Linked DNA regions of Homo sapiens. The protein of the gene in region 2 interacts with the protein of the main gene of each other region in a pairwise test. Each region holds a gene or a part of one and is shown on either strand. Other genes may lie near its edges.

Region 1 (3,084 bases), on a different chromosome or scaffold from region 2:
TCTAGGGAGTCAGGCCATGGTCACTAGGGGCAGGAGAAGCCTAGTGACCACTGTGTATGGTCTGAGAGTGTGCCCTTGCTAGGAACACTCTGCACCTGTCCCACTGCCATGCTCCAGCTGTTCCTAGAATGAAGCATGCCAGGTGTGAAGGACCGCCAGAGAGCAAAACAAAGGCTGGGCATCCAAAATAACAAGGAAGCCACATGGAAACCAAGACGTGGGGAAGACTGACCTGAAGGCTGGGCTGCCCAGAGGCCTGAAGGGCATGCTGTAGGGCTTGGCTGAAGAGATCATTGGTGATGGGCGTCCCTGACTGGACACCAGAGGACATTGGTGAGGTCCCTGAGGAATGACCCTAGAGACAAATTAGTGGTCAGTGCCACCCTCAGCGCCATCTCAATCTTATAGCAGATGCTCGCTGTTGTCATATCACCTCACAGCACTCCTGAGGTACCCAACTTCTGCCTCCCAACAAAGACCTGCCATAAGACAACCAAACAAAGGTAACTAGAAGCTCTCTATGTGGGCAGGAAAGGTTCCATTCTCTTCTGCACTGAGCCCCTTGTCCCAGCCTAGGACCCCAGCACTGCAGCACTGGGAGAGATGGCCTTGAAAGCTGAAGTGACTTGTCACCCAGAAATGCTTAAGCTGGTGATGTCTGCTCCCTGTCAGGGATGAGGAAGGGCATATTGTGTGCAGGAAGAGTCTTCTGAACTAATAGGGGGGACTACACGGGACCATGTTAAAATCTAGACTTCTGAGTCCTCAAGGCAAGTGAAGGGGAGGTCACTCAAGCTGCAGTAAGAAATCCCCACCAGGACTCCAGGGTTCAGCTTAAACTAGATCTAGCACCAGGGTCAGCAAAGGCAAATCTACTCTACTGCTGGGGAGCTTGTTCCTTGGGGGCCCAGCCTTGATCTTCCCGGCCCCGTCTTCATACCTGGGTGCCAGGAGTCGGTGTGTGAGAGCTGCTCTCCGGAGTGCTGGCCAGGGCCAAGGCGGTGGCCAGCTCACTCTGGGTGATGGGCCGGGGCCCAGCAGCTCCACTGTACCCCAGGGAGGCTGGGCGGGAGCTGGGAGTACTGCTAGAGGGTGTGGACCTGGTGTTCTGGAGAAAGAAGACACTCAGAATCAGGGAAGCAGTACTGTGAAACTCCCAGATGAACTCCACCCACCTCCAGCAATAGTTCTTGGGGAAACTCTTAAGTTCCCAGGTTCAGAAAGGAATCCAAAAGCAGAAATAGTATGACATGGTCTTGGCCCCCCAATGGCGTATGTCCATCTCCCAGCCTTGGGAGTGCCAGGTCCCAGGATGCAGCTCATTCCCAGCACCATCTCCCCCACATGTCAGCATGTCAGGCAGGCAGGCAGGCCACTTACTGGGTGAAAGTCATCCTCATCATCTGAGAGCCCTTCAAACAGGAAGCCACCTGGAGGAGGACGAACAGATTTCAGGAGGAAGAACAGAAAGGCACAGGCGCAGCTCCAGAATCTCAGCTCAAGTTACTCTCCAAATTCATATTTTCATCTCTCCCCTCGGAAAATTACAGGACAGATGCACTTCCTGACTCAAACCGAGAGTTCCCAAGGAACGCCCTCTGCCAACGCTATACATAGCTGCTGAGTAAAGCAAATTCCTGGGCCACTGCCGGCTCCTGAGGGGCCCACATTACACTTTTCAGGCGCTCACCTGGCATATCCCGGTATGAGCTGGAGGGCATGCTCCGGGAAGAGGAGTCAGTCCCAGGCATTGGGGCACTGCCTGCTACGGAGTGCAGAACCAGGACAATGGCATTGACGAGGGCTGGGTGAGCAGGCACCAACCTAGGATAGAAGCAGGAAGAAACCCAAGGGTGACTCCAAAAGAGCACCCTCAGCCATAACAGGAGTTCTGGGTGCCCCCTCACAACAATGCAGCCACCTGTGCCTGCTCTCAAATTCCTCAGTCTTTAGCATCTTCCACCAGGAAGCTTTATCCTCCTGCTGATCTGCCCCCAGCAACGGGTGCAAGGCCTTCAAATTCCTGGGGTCCGCTGCAGATTCTTCACCCTCTCCACAGGCAAGGCATGATGGGAAAGGTGCAGCCTGGGAGGCTCAGGGTTCTGGCCTGAGCACATGAGGAGTGTCTGGTCTAGGCACCACTACTACATCAGGCAACCCTGGACTGGTCCCTTCTCTTCCCAGGGTGGGGCTGTTTTCTTCACTTGCAAAATGAGGACATGTCCCTTTTAGCTTTGACACTTTACGGATCTGTACACCTGCTTCTCCTTTTGCCAGCTTAAAATCCTTGAAAAGCTCCCTAATTTCTACCACACGAAACCTAAACTGAGCCTGGCAGACAAGACCCTTTCCCTCAGAATCCTGCTTCCTCCCAGCACTCTTGACAAAAGCCCTGCTCTTGGGCTTTGCTCTTTCTCACCCCCTGACGTATCTAAGGGGTAGACTTGGTGACAGACTATGGATGGGCTCCCAGAGCAGACTGCAGGGTGACAATTAGGCTTCTGGCCTGAGCACGAGGAGAGAGAAGGTACCCTCTAATAGGACAGGTACACTTACGTATCAAGCATATTGGGATCAGCGAAGACAGAGAAGAGGTCCTTGTCCTGGAGAACCCCTGAAAAAGAGCAGAGCTCACCTCAAAGAAAGGAAATCAGCCAGATCCAGGAGGGAGAAGAGGCTTTGCGTCTCAGAGCAACCAGCTCAACAGGGACACAGGACAACAAGCCAATCTTCATGAGAAGTAGAGGAAGCAAAGCGCCAAGCAATACAATTCAGGTACTCCTCATCTTGGTCTAGTGAGGATGGTCCCCTGCTCTCCACCTCCCCTGCACTTTAGTCACATCACAGACTGGGTACCAAGACACCTGTCTCTTTCTCCCGTATCTCTGGGTTCTTCCCTTACTCAGGGTGTGCAGGACGCCTTCCCTGATTGCTGTGATGTGGGCTAACTGCTATCCTCATTTGGCATCCTCATACCCTTATTTACGATGTTAGTTAGGCCATTATCTCTCTGTGGGACTGAGAGCTCTTAAAGGGCTGGGGATATCAAACACACCTTGATTACTCTCCCTCTTCCCACAAGAC
Region 2 (3,742 bases):
GAGAGCCTATGAGCCATGTGTGGCTGTCAGCCCCTTGGTGGAGAGCCACAGACAGGATGGAGAGTGGCTGGCAGGGCCCCGTGGGGATGAACAGCTTGGATTGGGGCGACTGGGCTTCATCCAGGCTGGGCTGGATGTGTGCATACATTTCAGTGACCCGTTTTAGAAACAGAATTAATATGGTGAATAGAGAAAGAAGAAATCAGTGACTTTCGCTCCTCCATACAATTCAATTTGGCTTAAGTTAGCCAAAGCCATACCAAGTCCTCTCTCTATGTCTCAGCTGCTGCCAGGCTTGTGGTGGCCACACAGCTGGCTAGACTGTCATCTCTGTCCTCAAGGGGCTCAAGCTAGAGGAGGAGAGTTGAGAAACCAAATCACTATACACAAAGTAGAAGGTGGAACACACCCAGGAGCATGTCAACGGGGTGCTGTGGGACTTCAGAGTAGGCAGATCGTCACCAAGCTTCAACGGCAAAGATGCCACTGGGGGAAAGAAGGACCAAGCTTGGAAGACAGAGTAAGTCTGGAGGCAAGATCTTGTCTCACCAGCAGGGGCCAGGTCCATGGTGACACCTTCCCCAGGCAGTCACCTCTCTGAGCCCACTTTATATCCTAGGCCTGGATTCAAAGACACTTGAGCCCTGCTCCAGCCTTCCTTTGAGGTGCTATCTTGGTGCCTTTCCTATAATCACTGCTCCAGTCCCATGTCATCTGGTCCCCAGTTACCACATCAAGCTTCCCGAAGCTCCACACAGACCATGCCACATCTTTACCAAAAAATCAGCAGTGGGTCCCCTCACCTCCAGGACAAAGCTCCAGCTCTTCGACCTGCCTGTCAATATTTGCAATCACTGCCTGCACAAATTAGCTGGGTGTTGTCATGAAAGGATCACTTGAGCCCAGGAGTTCCAGGCTGCAATGACCTATGATTGAACCACTGCACTCTGGCCTGGGTGACAGAGTGGATCTAAACTAAAAATAAAAAGATTTACAGTCAAGCCTCAAAGGCTTTTCCCATACCTTCTTCCACCATCACCTCCCTGAGCCCTCTCTTTCCTCCGAAGCCTCCTCGCACATCCCTACCACCTTTGCACACCTCAGAATGGGGACACCTCTCCCCTTTCCTCTCCATCTAACTTATGGTTTTCAAACTTGAGCGTGATCAGTTACCTGGAGATTTGTGAAAACCCAGATGACTAGACCCACCCCCAGTTTCTGATTCAGCAGGTCTGGGGTGGGGCCGAGGATCTGCATTTCTAACAAGTTCCCAGGTCATGTTGCCGCTGCTACTGATCCAGGACTTTGGGAATCGCTCCTCTAATCTACAGCTGTCCATTCCCCATGGTCCATTCAGAGCCTCTCTGCCCTGCCCCCACCACCCCCAGTCTCGCCTGTCTGCCAAGCGCACAGGAAACTCTCCTTCATCCAAACCCTGGACCAACGCCTTCTGCTTGGCCCACTCAGAGGCCTTGTAGGGTTGGTCTGATATTGGACAGAGAAATGGCCCTCTGCTCTTTCTCCCCTGACCTCTCTGAAGGGGGCCTGCCCCTCCACACCTGTGGGTATTTCTCGCAAGGTGGAGACAAGAGACTGAGAAAAGAAATAAGACACAGAGAAAGTATAGAGGAATAAAAGTGGGCCCAGGGGACCGGCGCTCAGCAAGTGAGGACCTGCACCGGTGCTGGTCTCTGAGTTCCCTCAGTATTTATTGATCACTATCTTTACTATCTCCGCGAGGGGAATGTGGTGGGGCTATAGGGTGAAGGTGAGGAGAGGGTCAGCAGAAAAACATATGAGCAAAGACTCTGTGTCATAAATAAGTTTAAGGAAAGGTGCTGTGCCTGGATGTGCTAGATTTATGTTTAACTTTACACAAACATCTCAGTGTAGTAAAGAGTAACAGAGCAGTATTGCCGCCATGATGTCTCGCCTCCAGACATAAGGCAGTTTTCTCCTCTCTCAAAATAGAATGTATGATCGGTTTTACACCGGGTCATTCCATTCCCAGGGACGAGCAGGAGACAGATGCCTTCCTCTTATCTCAACCGAATAGAGGCCTTCCTCCTTCACTAATCCTCCTCAGCACAGACCCTTTACGGGTGTCGGGCTGGGGGGCTGTAAGGTCTTTCCCTTCCCATGAGGCCATATCTCAGGCTGTCTCAGTGGGGGGAAACCTGGACAATACCTAGGCTTTCTCGGGCAGGGGTTCCTGCGGCCTTCCACAGTGTATTGTGTCTCTGGTTAATAGAGAACGGAGAATGGTGATGACTTTCACCAAGCACACTGCCTGCAAGAACTTTTCTTTTTTTTTTTTTTTGAGACAGAGTCTTGCTCTGTCGCCCAGGCTGGAGTGCAGTGGCGCGATCTCGGCTCACTGCCACCTCTGCCTCCCGGGTTCACGCCATTCTCCTGCCTCAGCCTCCCGAGTAGCTGGGACTACAGGCGCCCGCCACCACGCCCGGCTAATTTTTTTGTATTTTTTTAGTAGAGATGGGGTTTCACCGTGTTCACCAGGATGGTCTCGATCTCCTGACCTCATGATCCGCCCGCCTTGGCCTCCCAAAATGCTGGGATTACACGTGTGAGGCAAGAACTTTTTAAAAGTGCATCTTGCGCAGCCCTAGATCCATTAAACCTTGATTCAATACAGGACATGTTTTTGTGAGCACAGGGTTGGGACAAAAGTTACAGATTAACAGCATCTCAAAGCAGAACAATTTTTCTTAGTACAGATCAAAATGGAGTTTCTTATGTCTTCCTTTTTCTACATAGACACAGTAACAATCTGATCTCTCTTTCTTTTCCCCATACCTCTCACGCTGTATCAGGCCCCAATTCTTGGGAACGTCACCTTAGAACTGTCCCACACATTTCTACAGCCACTTGGCTCAGGCCCTTTGCTGACCAGGATGGTTGCAGTTCTGCCTTTGGTGCCTCGCCTCCTCCAGTTCTTTCACTCAGCAGCTGCAGGGGTCCACGTGGCAAATCTAATAATCTTCTTCTCTATAGAAAATCCTCTGCTGGCTCTCTAGTGCCCAGGATCCAGTCCCAGCATCTCAGCACGGCCTTCAAGCATTTCCACGTCCTGGCCTGGCTCCATGGTCTCCCCGCCAATTTGCCACCTTCTCCATGCATCCTTTTCTGATCCCCTCCTCACTCATCCCAGCAAAGAACCCCCTCCTGGCCTGAGCATAGCATTTCGTGGTGTGTATCTCAGAGCATCCAGTTAGGGGTGTGCAAGTTTACTTTGTTACTGGCTGATGTTGTGAAGTCCCAAGTTGTTGGTGCCGCAAACAAAAAATTGGACATGACACACACAAATAGCAAAGCAGCAAAAGTTTATTAAGCACAGTACGATCCACTATGGATCAAGGATGACCTGCGAATGGTATCAGCATCACTTTGCTATATTTCATGGCCTTTTCTATGTGTTTTTTTTCTCTTTTTCCTCAAGCTGCCTAAGCTTTAGCCAGCATGTGCCTTTTGGTTGACAGGTGGGTTGCTTAGTTTCTTGGCCTCTGTGTGTTTACGTGTCATTTCCTTCCCATAGTTTTAAGTACATGCATGATATGCACTCTGTAGGCATGAACCTTAAGTAGCTAATTACTATACGGGGTCATTTTGAGGATATCTTTTCTCTGTAGTACATGTGCATCTTTTTTTGCAGTGGTGCAATCTTGGCTCACTGCAACCTCCTCCTCCCTGGTTCAAGTGATTCTCCTGCCTCAGCTTCCTAAGC
Region 3 (3,742 bases), on a different chromosome or scaffold from region 2:
GATAGTCAATAACCTGTCATGGCTTAGGTAGGTTTTCAGTATCACAGGCTATCTGCCCCTTTCCTGGAAATAAGAGGTTTCTTATTTCGCATAGAGTCTTCAAGTGGCATTCAACACCTGGAAAATTATATATGGACCTTCAGGTTGTATTTTTCTCTTCTTGGCAATATTACAAACTCTCAAAACCTAAATAACAGGGTTATCCACATAGTCAAGTTTTGAAGATCACAATGAAGATGAACTTTCACATGTGTCTATATTTCTATTTTTTAATTTAAAAGATTAGCAAGTGTCTTCAAATGAAAATGTATTCATCAACATTTAAAATAAGATCAGAGAAATAAATAGAAATTGAACAATAAAACAAACAAATAGAAAAAGATTTCAAAGAGGCCCAATGCTTTTATTTTAATAGCTGAAGGAATCACCTAGAAGCTATCAGAAATTTCCTTTTCTAAGACCAATATTAACAAGAATTAGTAGTAGAATGTTCTTATGCTTATAAATCAGGTTGGTTTGAACTAAGCCTCACTGACCTTATCCAGAGCCACCTGAACCACTGCTTCGCTTTCTGTGTCCAAGGCTGACGTGGCCTCATCCAGCAGGAGGATCTTGGGGTTGCGAACCAGGGCACGTGCAATGGCGATCCTCTGCTTCTGCCCACCACTCAACTGGGCCCCTCTCTCTCCAACCAGGGTGTCAAATTTCTACCACAGAAAACCCAGAATGATTTAGCATAAGGACAAGCTATCTCAGCTCATATTTTAAATTGGTAAGGAATCCTATACACAGCCCAAGTCTCACAAGTAATACAGGTCCAGTTCTTTAAATCTTATTTAACACAATAACCAACCTCAGTTTTTAAAAATGTATCTACGACCAGTTGATACTGCTAGAGCTTTCAAATCTGAAGTAATCTTACTTTCCCTTCTTAGGATTTCCCTTCTTCCGATTTATAGTAGTTTCCTAACTTCCTGCATAGTAGGCCTGCATTTTATTTTTTGCACCTCTAGAAAGGCAAAGGGCAAGGACAACTTACATGAGGCAGTTTCATGATAAAGTCATAGGCATTGGCTTCCTTGACAGCTTTCTCAATCTCATCCATGGTGACATTTTCACGGCCATAGCGAATGTTTTCAGCTATCGTGGTGGCAAACAATACAGGTTCCTGACTCACCACACCAATGATTTCCCGTAGAAACCTTACATTTATGGTCCTAATATCCTGTCCATCAACACTGACCTGGAATAAAAAGTAAGTGTGACTTTCATACATTTGTAATTGAAAGGGCAACATCAGAAAGATGTGCAATGTGACTGCTGATCACCGCAGGGTCTAGCTCGCATGGGTCATCTCACCATCCCCTCTGTGGGGTCATAGAGCCTCTGCATCAGCTGGACTGTTGTGCTCTTCCCACAGCCACTGTTTCCAACCAGGGCCACCGTCTGCCCACTCTGCACCTTCAGGTTCAGACCCTTCAAGATCTACCAGGACGAGTGAGAAAAAAACTTCAAGGCAATTCACAGACACAGGATATAGGAACTGACTGTTCACTAGGTTTAAATATACATGCACTTTTTTATAATCTCTACAAGAAAACATCAGAAACTCTTCATTCAATAGATTAATTGTTGATTAATCATTTATCACTGTACCTTAACTTCTTTTCGAGATGGGTAACTGAAGTGAACATTTCTGAATTCCAAATTTCCCTTAATATTATCTGGTTTGTGCCCACTCTTCGAATAGCTGTCAATACTTGGCTTCTAAACAGAATCAAATTTTAAGAGATTACTAGGTTACAATAACTACTTTTAGTGATATTTTGTGGAGAGCTGGATAAAGTGACAAAGAAATTGACTTAACTGGACAATCTTTTAGATAGGTGGATAGATGGCCAACTCAGACTTACATTATCAATTATCTTGAAGATTTCATAAGCTGCTCCTCTTGCATTTGCAAATGCTTCAATGCTTGGAGATGCCTGTCCAACACTAAAAGCCCCAATTAATACAGAAAAGAATACCTGAGGAATGTGAAGAAAAACCATCAGGCTACTGAGATAGTGACAGCAATTTTTTTTCATACTTCTTCTGTCTTTTTCTAACATAGGTAATTAAAATTTAAAATGGCGAGGCAACATATAAATACTAGGTGTTAAAAATATTTTAAAAGTTTGTAACTAACAGTACATTTAATTCCTTTTTTCATTTTTTTTCCTTTTTAAGAGACAGGTTCTCATTCTGTCACCCAGGATGGAGTGCAGTGGTGCAATCATAGCTCGTCATAACCTCTACCTCCTGGGCTCAAGCAATCCTCCTGCCTCAGTCTCCCAAGTAGCTAGGACTACAAGCATGCACCATCACACCTGACTAATTTTTTTTATTTTTTCTAGAGACAGGGTCTCGCTACGTGTCCCAGCCTGGTCTCCTGGCCTCAAGCAATCCTCCTGCCTCAGCCTGCAAAAGTGCTGGGATCACAGGCATGGGCCACCACACCCAGCCAAGAGTAAATTTCAAATGTGTCACCTCAAAAGGTGTCAAGTGAGGAGATAGATATGTTAATTAGCTTGCTCTGATCACTCCACATTTTGTGTGTATGTGTGTGTATACATAAACATCACATTGTATTCCGTAAGTGTAATGCAATTATGATTTGTCAATTAAAAATAGCATAAAATTTTTTTAAAAAAATTTTAAGACAAGGTCTTGCTTTGTTGCCCAGCCTGGACTGCAGTGGTGCAATCTTGGCTCACTGCAACTTCAACCTCTGGGTTCAGACAACCCTCTCACCTCAGTCTCCGAAGTAGCTGGGACTACAGACAAGTGCCACCATATCTGGCTAATTAAAAAAAAAAATTATAGAGATGAGATCTCACTATGTTGCCCATACTAAAAATATTTTGGAAATATAAATACTTTTCAATTTAGAATGCAGAATTAGTCTTACTTGCTCAATAAACAATGATTTAAATTTCACAGGGCTAGAATATTATAATAGGATATTTTTATATTTCTTCAATGTCTAGTTTTTTTTTTATTTAGATCATCAGTAAGGTAAAGTGGAAATAAATGCTAGCAGAGGAGTCAGAAGACCCAGTTCTGAATCCTAAATTAGTAATAACTAGTTATATGTTGTTAGGCCATTCTCTTAGAATCTTTGGCTTCAATTTCTTCATTGGCAAAAACAGGCAAGATTCTATCTGTTCTCCCTACCCAGCAATCATAGAGATGTTGTATCATGATAAAACAGTGTATATGAACATTTTTTGTTAATTATAAAGCACACACACCTAAGACACTGATCCTTTATCAGGTTGTCTTTTTTGCCACAAGGCCGTGTTCTCTTTAGGCCTTTTGTTTTTTTGTTTTGTGCAAATCAGTTTCTTATTGGTAAAGACTTAACTGTGTTTCTCTTTGGGGTTGATGAGAATTAATGTCATTATTCATTTTTTCTAAATCACATGGAATTATATTGCTCAATAATTTACACAGAAGGAACTTTGCTAAGTGATTCTATATTCATTATCTCAGTTAGTCCTCAAAACACGCTGAAAGTTAGGGTTCATTCCTGTCATATCATTTGGCAGAAGAGGTAGCAGAGGCTTGAAAAGTTTAGCTGGCTGCCCTAAATCATACAGCTAATAAGTGACAAAGCTGCCATTTGAATCAAGTTGGTCCGATATCAAACCCCACACTCCCTATTTTGGATGCCTCCAGTGTGTGAAGTATATTCATGCCC

Evidence for each region. The genes of interacting proteins can lie anywhere in the genome.
Region 1: the proteins of CD4 (region 2) and UBL7 interact in a two-hybrid assay, tested with the Homo sapiens proteins (one large-scale study listed by BioGRID and IntAct).
Region 3: the proteins of CD4 (region 2) and ABCB1 interact in a two-hybrid assay, tested with the Homo sapiens proteins (one large-scale study listed by BioGRID and IntAct).

Annotation. Positions count from the first base shown.
Region 1 is NC_000015.10:74,448,246-74,451,329, forward strand, and holds part of UBL7 (ubiquitin-like protein 7), read right to left. Parts: intron 2,615-3,084; coding exon 2,557-2,614; intron 1,825-2,556; coding exon 1,691-1,824; intron 1,431-1,690; coding exon 1,381-1,430; intron 1,109-1,380; coding exon 941-1,108; intron 356-940; coding exon 233-355; intron 1-232.
Region 2 is NC_000012.12:6,795,868-6,799,609, forward strand, and holds part of CD4 (T-cell surface glycoprotein CD4 isoform 1 precursor), read left to right. Parts: intron 1-3,670; exon of another isoform or gene 3,671-3,742. UniProt on the Homo sapiens protein: Integral membrane glycoprotein that plays an essential role in the immune response and serves multiple functions in responses against both external and internal offenses.
Region 3 is NC_000007.14:87,548,812-87,552,553, forward strand, and holds part of ABCB1 (ATP-dependent translocase ABCB1), read right to left. Parts: intron 2,028-3,742; coding exon 1,914-2,027; intron 1,768-1,913; coding exon 1,657-1,767; intron 1,486-1,656; coding exon 1,360-1,485; intron 1,244-1,359; coding exon 1,040-1,243; intron 708-1,039; coding exon 537-707; intron 1-536. UniProt on the Homo sapiens protein: Translocates drugs and phospholipids across the membrane. Catalyzes the flop of phospholipids from the cytoplasmic to the exoplasmic leaflet of the apical membrane.